Linked DNA regions of Homo sapiens. The protein of the gene in region 1 purifies or fractionates together with the protein of each later gene. This does not show direct contact. Each region holds a gene or a part of one and is shown in the gene's direction. Other genes may lie near its edges.

What was found.
Region 2: the proteins of LRRN1 (region 1) and SYT12 purify together in Homo sapiens (co-immunoprecipitation; one large-scale study listed by IntAct). This does not show direct contact.
Region 3: the proteins of LRRN1 (region 1) and ST7 purify together in Homo sapiens (affinity purification with mass spectrometry; one large-scale study listed by BioGRID and IntAct). This does not show direct contact.

What each region holds. Positions count from the first base shown.
Region 1 is NC_000003.12:3,797,900-3,801,645, forward strand, and holds the start of LRRN1 (leucine-rich repeat neuronal protein 1 precursor), read left to right. Parts: upstream 1-1,531; 5' UTR 1,532-2,020; intron 2,021-2,801; exon of another isoform or gene 2,802-2,976; intron 2,977-3,065; exon of another isoform or gene 3,066-3,347; intron 3,348-3,746.
Region 2 is NC_000011.10:67,043,589-67,047,234, forward strand, and holds part of SYT12 (synaptotagmin-12), read left to right. Parts: intron 1-49; coding exon 50-265; intron 266-1,004; coding exon 1,005-1,125; intron 1,126-2,054; exon of another isoform or gene 2,055-2,120; intron 2,121-2,155; coding exon 2,156-2,289; intron 2,290-3,646. UniProt on the Homo sapiens protein: Synaptic vesicle phosphoprotein that enhances spontaneous neurotransmitter release but does not effect induced neurotransmitter release. Unlike other synaptotagmins, it does not bind Ca(2+) or phospholipids.
Region 3 is NC_000007.14:117,219,001-117,222,646, forward strand, and holds part of ST7 (suppressor of tumorigenicity 7 protein), read left to right. Parts: intron 1-83; coding exon 84-176; intron 177-2,922; coding exon 2,923-3,062; intron 3,063-3,646. UniProt on the Homo sapiens protein: May act as a tumor suppressor.

The sequences.
Region 1 (3,746 bases):
CCTCTGTAAAGCTCCTCCTTGAAGGGCACAACCTCATCTCTCTTCCACTCCCAGGAAGGCAGGCTGGAAACCTAATAGAGACTCCCTAAGAAACCTGCATTCTATCTTTCCCTGACCATTCAATTTCCGTACTTCCACCAGAGCCCAACTTCTATCAGACAAACTCCATGCTATCTGCATGCTAACTCCATGGATAATCTGCATGAAAAGGGGGGAAAGAGACAAAATCATGTTACAAAACTTGGGCAAGGGTCTAGACTCAACTTGCTTTGAAAGATCTTAAATCTTCCCATTCATTTGTAGACAGCAGTGGGCCTTTTTCTTCCTCTGCTCTGCACGACCTTCTAGCCCAAGTGCTAGTATCACCTTTTCCTAAAGACTTTTAAGACAAACTGTGACCATTTATGTCTACATGACACAGTTTCAGGATAACAAAGTGTGAAGACACACAAAGACGTCAAACATTTATCAGAGACCTAAGCGAAACGCCAATAAATGTTACAGGGATCAAGAATATGGTTACTGACATTGAATGTATCCTGTGGCTTTGAAGAATCCAAAGGATGATTCTCGAATAATGTATCCTTCCAAATTCTCCAGAAGTTCTAAGTTTAGACATCATAATGAAATGTCACCACGTTCCTCTGCCAGAAGTTGTTCAGTACTGAGGGGCTAATGATGCTTTCGCTTAAAGCCGATTCCCCCAATAAAGGGTGCCAAGGCTTTTCTGAAGCCCTGCTTCCGGCTGGCGACTTTGAAGCTGAGACGCAGGTTCACGCGCAGTTTCCGAAGACCTATTCCGTCCCCACCCTCCTCCCCTTCCTCGGAGACACCTCCACTTAACACTGCCTTCTCAGTCCCTCGCCGCCTGTTTAAACACAACTTCCACCCCTCACAAATCAGAAAGCTGTAATTTCAAAGTTTCAGAAACGTTTTCGGAAAGCCTCCTCCAATGGGAAGCGACTTCGCCGCTGAGTTAAGCGTCCGAATCCTCCTTCCCGCGGCAGGGACACCGGCCCGGGCCAGGTCTGCGGAGGACGCCCCCGGGCGCGCACACACAGCCCGAGGACGCGCCCTGTATTTTAAGACGCAGGGTCGGATTTCACCCCGAAACTTGGCTCCCACAGCCCCAGGCCGAACTGTGTCTGGTTCTCAGCCCCCGAGCCCGAGTTCTACGCCGCAAAGAGATGGGGCCCCATTGTGCCTAGCTGGCCTCCTAGCACGGACGTGTATTTTCTTTTGGTCTGTCTTTTGCTAAAAACCGGCAGTGCGCTTCGCCTCCCTGCCCAGCCGCAGCCTGCCGTCCCCTAGACAAAAAGCGGCGACCGCGGCCCGGCCACCCGAGCCCCGCCGCGCTGCGCCTTTGTTGGGCGGTCCACAGATGGTGCCCAGCACGGGGCCGCGCCGAGGGCGGGGGCGGGAGGCCGCGAAGAGGGTCGGGCGGGAGGGGAGGAGACGGCGGAGCAGCCAATCCGCGCGCGGCCCATCAGCTGACCGCCTTTGCTTACACCAGGTGCACGCCGGCTGCGGGGAGCACAAAGCGGGGCGCACCGCGGGCGCCGGCAACGAGCCGGTGAACGAGGCGAGGCCCGTGCGCCCGCGGCTGCAAGCGCCCGCCTGGCGGGGAGAGGGGCCGACGGCGTCAGCCCGGGCGGCGGCATCCCTAGGCGCCTGGGGCGCCTTCCTCCGGACCTGGCCGCTCGCTGCCCCGCCCTCTGCACCCCACTTCTCCGACCCTCCTTCCCAGTCCTGCCTCCCCCTGCCCTGGCCTCTGAGAGCCGACTGAGCCCAGCCCCGTGCAGCAGCGGTTGCCTGTGTCGCCGCCTAGTCTCCGGTCTTGGTGCTCTCCCGGGGGTGCCCCAAGGAGCCAGTGCGCGCTGCGGGCTGGGAAGGAGGCGCCGCTCAGCTAGTCCTCCTCCTCCTCCTCGTCTTTCTCCTCCTCCTGCTGCTGCTGCCGCCGCCGCCGCCGTGGGTGCCGGGTCCGCGCGCACCCCAACACCCCCACCAGCTGGGCCTCGGGGTAAGTCCCTGGCCGGCCGCGCCGCGGCAGGAGGTGTGGGAGGCAGCGAGGGGAAGTCGAGGCAAACTTGGTGGCGTGGGAGACCCTACGGGGTCTGGGGAACCTCAGGGTAAGATCGCGGGCCTGAGGGGGACGAGGGGGCGCGGCTCACGGAGCTGGGGAAAATGACGAAGTCGGGAAACGAGAATATAGTGCCCCGTTTCCCCCCGTCCCCCTTGCCAAAAAAAAAAAAAAAAAGGTGTGGGAGAGCGATAGTTGGGAAGGCAGGCCAGATAGAAACAGGCAAAAAAAGGCAGTGACCGGAGCCGAGCCTGCTGGATTTCAGGGGCCGACCAGGGGAGGGAGGTGCCCGGGGACGGGGAGGGAGGAGGGCTGCCGGGATGTGAACCGGGGAAGGCAGCTGGGGCTGGAGAGCAGCGCGGAAAGGGGGCCCAGGGAGCTGGAAAGAGGGCCAAGAGGAGGGCAAGGAAGGTGGCGGGCGACGGGGAGAGGAAAGAAAAAGGGTGTCTTGGCGGTGGCCTTGGTAAGAGAAAGGGGCAAGGGGTATAATTGACAAGGCACTGAAAGTATTGAAGTCAGAGCCTTGGGAAGGATCTACCGAACTCTCGGCGGTCCACGCGGGGACAGACCTCAGCCCGTGAGCCTTGAGCTCCACGCGGGGACAGACCTCAGCCCGTGAGCCTTGAGCTCCACGCGGGGACAGACCTCAGCCCGTGAGCCTTGAGCTCCACGCGGGGACAGACCTCAGCCCGTGAGCCTTGAGCTCCACGCGGGGACAGACCTCAGCCCGTGAGCCTTGAGCTCCACGCGGGGACAGACCTCAGCCCGTGAGCCTTGAGCCCAGAAGGAGTGGCAGCCTCAGGACGTTTGCCAGGTGGCCTGGAATGTGAGGGAAGCCTCAGCCCCGCCAGGAACAGAGCTGGCGCTGAGTTCCCGGCTCGGCCCGGGTCAGAAGCGAGGAAAGTTTGCCGGCGAGTGTCCTTTGTGCTGCGTGGAGAGGGGTGTGGGCGGCCGCCGACTCGGCGCTTCCCCGCCGCCCGCCCAGGGAGTCCCTGCCTGGCAAGCTGGGGCTCGGGGAAAAGTCCAGCAGCGAGAGGGCCGCGTGTCCCGGGACGGTTCCAGGGGAGCCCGCGCGGAAACGCGGACCAGGCGCTTCGGCCCGGATGCCGGATCCAGGAGAAGGGGACCTCGCTTGCCGTGTCCACCGCCGCGGCCCCAGCGCCAAGAACAGAGCCTGGCCGTGAGTGAACGACTGGCCGGGGTACAAATGGTTCTGAAGCACTTGAAGCTCACAGGCAAAGGCTAAGAGTCTAAATCCCATCCCGCCGTAAGTATTTTCATTCCCAAACCTAAATCGTAAAGGAAAAGTGGAATTCTAATTGGGTGAGGGAACAGGTGCTGCCGACTCTGGCTTTTGCGTGGAGGATTTTCTAAAAGACAACATGTTTTGTTTTGTCTTGCCATGACAATCTAAATCATGTTAGTGGAATAGGCTCATTATTTCATTTTTAAAAGCTAGGGCTGGAGGAGTGGAAAGTTCAGGAAGGCACTTTGATCAGTATAAATCTAGAGTAAAAGTGTTATTGGCTCCAGGGCCATATGTGTCCCGAAGTCTCTGATTTGCATGCAAATGTGAGCGGATCCTGGCAGATGTCTGGCCTCATCCATTCACATGAAGGAATTTGAAAAGACAAGGAGTCTTCAGTTAACAATAGACCTTAAGAAA
Region 2 (3,646 bases), on another chromosome or scaffold:
CTGTGGCCTCTCAGGCCCCTAGCGCCCTCCATGGCCTTTTCTCCTGCAGATCCAGAGAAATGCCTACTCCATCTTCTTTGATGAGAAGTTCTCCATCCCCCTGGATCCCACAGCCCTGGAGGAGAAGAGCCTGCGGTTTTCTGTATTTGGCATCGATGAGGATGAGCGCAACGTCAGCACGGGGGTGGTGGAGCTGAAGCTTTCTGTGCTTGACCTCCCGCTGCAGCCCTTCAGTGGCTGGCTCTATTTACAGGACCAGAACAAGGTAAGTGACTTGCCTGCTCGTCCACCTCGGAAGAGCGTGCACACACATACACTTCCAGGAAGGGACTCCATCATCCTCATCATCCTCTGCAATAGCCTGAGCCCCATCATCATTAGGAGAGCAGAGAAGAAGACCTGAGCCACATCCGAGGAAACTGCTTGCTGCAGGCAAATTTCAAAAACATCCCGACCACTGTTTACAGCTCGTCTGCTGCTTTGCCACCAAAGCTTCAGAGGTTCTACCCCTACTGAGCTTCTGCTAGAGAAACATTCCTCTAGCCTTAGAGGGGATGATTTCAGACAGACACCAAGCTGCACTTTAGTTTTATAATTGTAGGAATGCTCACAGAACATCATTGTTGTTTAATCAAAGAATCTAATTCCATTCCACTCTGATCGCTGTGTATTACTACCGCAGTGTTTTCCTTGGCCTGCAATGAGGGAACGAAACTACATTTGATAGCTACATTTGACAGGCCGCCTCTGACCCTCCGCCCCAGGCAGGACCCTCCCGGTGGAAGGGAGGAGTGGGGCATGCTCCATGCAGTGGCGGGGGGTGGGTGGCTGTCCCTTTCTCCAGGCTGTCCCTGCCTGCCTGGAGCCCTGTGGTAAGGGGCCCCCAGTGCAGCCACTTCTCTATGGAGAAGGAAGCCCCAGCCTTTCCCTGGCAACCAAGGCTTTCCCTGGACCCCTCAAGTCGGGTGGGGAGAAGCCCTCTGAGCCACCTGTCTGTCCCCCAGGCCGCCGATGCTGTGGGGGAGATCCTGCTCTCCCTCAGCTACCTCCCCACAGCCGAGCGCCTCACCGTGGTCGTGGTTAAGGCCAAGAACCTCATCTGGACCAACGACAAGACCACAGCGGGTAAGGCCCAGCCGGCAGCCCGGCTCCTCCACGTAGCTCAGTGGAAGCTGTGGCCCAGCTGCTGTGCTGTGGGCACCCGGAGGCATCGGCAGGTGTGGGACACAGTGCCAAGGTCCCCCTCAGCTTTGCTGAGCCCAGAAGTCATGCAGATGGATAGGGGGTGGCATGGGGACAATTAATCCAGCCGGGGAAACATGAGATCCCTGGAGGGTGGCAGGGGCCCCTGTGAGGGCAGAGTGAAGGGGGTCAGAGTGATGCGGGGGTCTCAGGGCAGGAGGCCGCACTCAGGGCTGGGGGCACTGGGCAGGGAACCAAGGTGGGCATCTGTTCCCTGGAACTGGAATTCATGGTGGAGACTCCATTCCCAGAGACAGGGCAGTATCCCAGACTCCAAAAAGGGACCAGGGCCACGGGGTTGGGGTGGGTGCCAGGCAGGACCCGATGCCTTAGGTCTGCAGGAGTCCCCAGTCCCTCTCAAAGCAGTGACCGTGGAGGCAGCTGTATTCTAGAGAACTGAAGACCAGGGGCTGGGGGAGCCTGATCTATTGGGAGTTGCAAGCCTTGGGGCGGGGGTAGGTGGGGGGGGCAGCTCCAGGCAGGTGCGGCAAGGACACCCCGTGGGCAATAGGTGATGGGCAGACGGCAAGTTGTTATTTCAGAGCCGCACACGGTTGAGTCAGGCTCTGCTGTGCGGGTGCCCGGTGACTCAGGGCTGACGTCTGCACTCGGGCCATTTATAGAAGGAACACGGTGGGGCTGCTGAGTTCCCCAGAGCATCCTAGGAGGGGAGCGCGTGGGCTGTGAGGCAGCTGCCTGAGCACAAAGCCCAGCCCTCACCTGACGTGCTGTGTGAGCCTCAGTTTTCTCATCTGTGAAATGGGAAAAATAATAAAGGACCAATGGCAGGGCTGCAGGAGGTCACAGCAACAGTTAAGCATTGGGGAGTTTGGAGTCGGTGGGTGGAGCCAAACTGGGCAGGGCTGTGGTGAGTGAGTGTGACACTGGCCCTCACCTGTCCGCCTGCCCACAGACCCCTTCGTCAAGGTGTACCTGCTGCAGGATGGGAGGAAGATGAGCAAAAAGAAGACAGCCGTGAAGAGGGATGACCCCAACCCGGTGTTCAACGAAGCCATGATCTTCTCGGTGCCAGCCATTGTGCTCCAGGTGAGGGGGGCTGGGGGATGGGAAGGGGCCAGGTCACCCCAGGGCTCTGGGGCTGCCGCATCTCTCCACCTTCTCTTCTCAGGGCCCCTGCAGGGGTAGTGGTTTGCCTCCAGCCATCACTTTCTAGCAGTTATTGAGTGCCACTGGGGCCAGCCCTAGGGTGGGTGCTGGGGACACAGGCATGGCTTTCTCGGTGCTCACAAGGGACAGGCAGGAGAGTCCCTAATCCACTAAGAGTGTCCTCAGGTGAGGGGGGATTCCTGCAGGAGGGGATACCCAGCTCTGAGGGAGGACCATTCCTGGTGGAGGGAACTGCAGAGGGTTGGAGAGGAGCTGGGGTGAGCCAGGCACCCAGAGTTCCTGCTCTGAATCTCCCAAGCTCCATTTCAGGGTTCTGCTGAACTCCCCAGGTTCGCGTGGTCTTCAGAAGGTGACATGCTCCAGGGAGACCTCTCCCAGCAGGGACATCACAGACCACGGGTGGGGCTTGAAGATAGGGCTTGGGCCCTGCTTGCATGCCTCGGAGGATGGGGCTCGCACCACCTTCCCTCACTATCTCTAGCCCTCCTCGGCACTCCTGACAATGAGAAAGTCCTTTGTGCCTTGAGCCAAAACCTGCCTCCATAGCCCCAGGGCTGTACAGAACCCGCCTAATCTCCCCCAACCCGGGGACCCCGCCAGCATGTAAAGGCCCAGAATCTGCCTCACTCTGAGTGTTCCTAACCCGGGCACACCCCAGCATCTCTGGCCCATCCTGGGTATCGTAGCCTTCACCTGCCACCCTCGTGGAGCAGGCTGCCCATGTGTCCTCTGCCTCTCCCTGGGTGTCATAGTGCCACTTCTCCACAGCCTCTAAAAGCAAGAGACTTCTTGGGACCATGGGGGAAGTGGAGGAGGAGAGAGATCGGGCTGGGTTTGAGTTTCAGCTCCCGCTCTCATCTCAAGCAGTCTCTCCCGTCCTCGGTTGTGAGTGCAACGTGGTGATATTAGTAATAGCAACGCAACCTCTAGCATGTTCTGACTGTGCGCAGGTGCCGTTCTACACAGTTCACTCTTTTTGTTCCTGAAACAGCCCTATGAGATAGAAACCAATTTTTTTTTTTTTGAGACAGAGTCTCACTCTGTTGCCCAAGCTGGAGTGCAATGGTGTGAACTCAGCTCACTGCAACCTCCGCCTCCTGGGTTCAAATGATTCTTCTGCCTCAGCTTCCTGAGTAGCTGGGATTACAGGCACCTGCCACCACACCTGGCTAATTTTTGTATTTTTAGTAGAGATGGGGTTTCACCACGCTGGCCAGGCTGGTCTTAAACTCCCAACCTTAGGTGATCCACCCACTTCGGCCTTCCAAAGTGCTGG
Region 3 (3,646 bases), on another chromosome or scaffold:
AAATGCTCAAACGCCCCTTTTTGCAGTTGGGAAGTTATGACACAAACATTGGACATCTCTGACATATTTTTTCTCGTTTTCAGCTTTTCGGATGATCCCTTATCCCTTGGAAAAGGGGCACCTATTTTATCCTTACCCAATCTGTACAGAAACAGCAGACCGAGAGCTGCTTCCATGTAAGTCTCACCTCTCTTCAGCCAGTGAGGGTGTGTGGTGAAAGGTGGGGATTGGAAGAGGTGGGAATATCAAAGTTTAGAATGCTCCTTGTCTTTTATTACTTTTCTCCAAACCCCTGTCCTTGTTTGATAGCATATGTATTAAAGTGAATTATGTGAGTGGGTTTGGCTTCCTTTTCCTCCAAGTCTCTCCAAATTTATCAAAGGGAAAGATGCCAAAGGATTGAAATGTAGCTGAAGAAACCCTATGTACTGATTGGCCTGAGCACAGAGACCCCTGGTTTGGGCTGGTGTCTGCTGGGCTGGTCCATTGTGAGGGTTCTGCCTGGGCTCTTCAGCTGGACAGATGTGGTCTGCACCGACCGGAGTTTGAAGAGGAGCTGCTGACTGAGAGGGAGCTGCGCATGAGTCATGGGTGGGAGGCCAGCACCAGGAAGCTGGCACCATGGCCAGATGTGGAGTTGTGGGGCAGGGCAGTGTGCTGTGTGGTGAGGCTGTGCTCTGGCAAGAGGGATTTCCCGTGAGCACCTCGTGGGTTGCATGTAGTGACTCGGAGTACCATGTGCAGAGCACACGTGTAGCCTCAGCACTGTATGAAAGCACACAAAAGAAAACCCTGCCCTCGACTACCTTACACTTGCTAGCAGTCTAATGACCCATACCACATGTGGAAAATATTATTTTGCTTTGCTGTAATACAACATTGTTTTGACAATTCAGGCTAAATGGTTATTATCAAATCATACTATGTACAAGGATCATGTCAGGCTCTTCATGTGGCCCAGACTTAGGATATATTTTTCTCCCTCAGATAATAAGCTCCAAATTTTAGCTCTTCTCCCTTCTCTGTCCTCTCTCCTGCCATCTCTGCCCTTTCACCAGCCCCAGTTATATCAATATCTTATAGCTGTAACATATAAGTACTTTCCCCAGAGGAACAGTGTAACCTTAGAGCCCTGGGTGCATAGTAAATTTCCAAACACCAGCATCATCAAGCCAGTCATGAATCTCCAGCATGGTGGGATCTGGGTGCAGAACTCAATGGCTGTCATCAGATTGAGGTAGCAGGAGTTGCTCACTTGCCTTCCTGCCAGCCAGACCCAGTGCGAGATTTGTTACTCAGGGAACTGGGAGATCCCCGTGATGTGTTTCTCACCGTTCGAGTTTGATTGTGAAAAGAGTCTGGTACCTCACACATTAGATTTGATTTCAGAAATCCTCACCGTGGGCCCATAGTTTACCTTTCAACTCCCCCTTCAGGGAGATCCTTGTTAAGTTTCGGTTTTCTGGTAAGAAAGGCAGTTTTCTGAAAAGTACAGTATTTTTAAATGTTTTAATCGAGTCCAATTAAGTTTCCATGGGGATAGATTAGTTATTAGAACAAGATTACAGTTCTTAAGAGAAACCTTATAGGGATAATCTTTATAAGCCTGAAATAGGAAATTATGGCTCACATTAATTGAATGCAGTGCTCCAAGTCTGGTCTCCCTCCAAAATCTTTTTTGGTTGGATGTTAAGGGTGAGGATATGAAGAAGGTAGGTTGTTTTAAGTGCTACCCATAATTTGCACATTAAAAGTATAATTATAGCCACACGAGGCCCTGAGCACACTTGTTCCGTGTGTTTGAATCCCAGCAGGCTGACCTACCTGGATGTAGTAGGCATATTCGTCTGCATGGAGTTCCTCCTGGATTCCCTCCACCCTCAGTATTAGCCTTGTGGATTACTGTTGAAGACTCTGAGGAATAGGAGCTGAATGGTAGAGGAAAGGCCTCTAGATCTTGTATTCCCTGAGGACCATGGAGCCCTCTGGTCCTCTTGGTTAGAGTGGGCTGTTTCTCACGTGCAGTTTCACAGCCTCTCCCCCAGCACCCCCAGCAGGTGGCTCTTTCTCCTCCTGCAGGCCCGCCCCATCGACCCAGGCAGTCTCTCAGGCAGCCTCATCATGAGCACAGAGAAGGAGGCGATTCTCTTGACCTCTGTACCACAGCTTTTTGGTTTTCCCAAACCCAATGTTTGAAATATAATATAAAAATTATAGAGGGCACTCTAAAGAGCACCAGCTTTTCTTGTTTTTTTGATGATTGTTGGAAGTGTATTTGTCATCAAGAGTCTCTTACAATTGTGCCAGATAACCCTAGCAGTCTTGACCTTCCCTCCTTGCAGTTTGAATAGACCTACATGTGAGGTCCTTGCTGGATATCTCTCTATGAGGGTGGCACCCTCCACTGATATACTTAGAGGGTGCCAGGAAAAAATACAGGAGAAACTAGTATCATCTCATTATAATGATTTTTTAAATACAGGAAGGAAAAAATATAGACGGGATACCTTTTTTCCCTGTATACTCGGTTTTGGATTTTCCAGGTTTTGTACAATGAACACGTGTTTTGTAATTTGAGTAAATTACAAATTGTTTCAGCTGTGTTTGCTTTTGAGAAAAAAATACTATACATTAGGCATAGGCGGTGCTCCTCTTCCCTCCCATGAAGGCGTGACACCCTCAAATCAGCCCCCTCCTGCCTCAATTTAGAGTGCTGAAGGCTGGATGGAGACTTGCGACCAGCAGATGGGCCTCCAAAGGCTGGGTCAGATGTTGGCTATGGTTTGTCAGGTGTGCTATTTTTTCATTTCCCATAGGCTTCCAACTCTTTCCCAAGCTCTGGAGTCAGTGCCACCATAAAGACCTCCCCTGAGAGTGCAGTTTACTCCAGCCCTGATATTTCCCTTTTGGTCTTCTCCACAGCTTTCCATGAAGTCTCAGTTTACCCAAAGAAGGAGCTTCCCTTCTTTATTCTCTTTACTGCTGGATTATGTTCCTTCACAGCCATGCTGGCCCTCCTGACACATCAGTTCCCGGAACTTATGGGGGTCTTCGCAAAAGCTGTGAGTGTTTGCCTAGAGGGAGGCCTTGGGGAATGGATGGGGAAAGCCAAGGGCATAAAAGCAGCGTGAGAGAAATGGGGTTGCCTTACAGAAATGGGTACGAGCCTGCAAAGATCATTGCTCACCATTTAATTTTCATGATCGTCAATGGAATCAAAGCATTAAGGGTCAAATGAGAAAGTGCAGGTTGTTACTGCATGCCTTGCCTCATTTCACAACAAATTCTTAGCAGTTTCCAAAAAATGCAGGAGGTCCAAAAGGATGGAATGATTTAGGAAATCCTAGCAAATGAAAATGTGTGGGAAGTTACTCGGTTTTCTGTAAATTGAATGACATTATTTCCAATCGTTGGATATTGTGGGTCTTTCCTTAGTGAAGGATGAGATTTACATTTTCAAAGATGATTTAAATAATTTTTTTTAATGGCTGCAAACCCTTGGCTTGTCTAAGGAATGAACAGAGGGTGTAAAGGGCTTATTAAGAAGTAAACTGAAATGACATTTAGAAATATGGAAATCCATTAAGAGTCTTTAAGGAGCTTGGGGAGAGGAGCTTTAATAAGAAAAGCCATCTGCATTGACAGC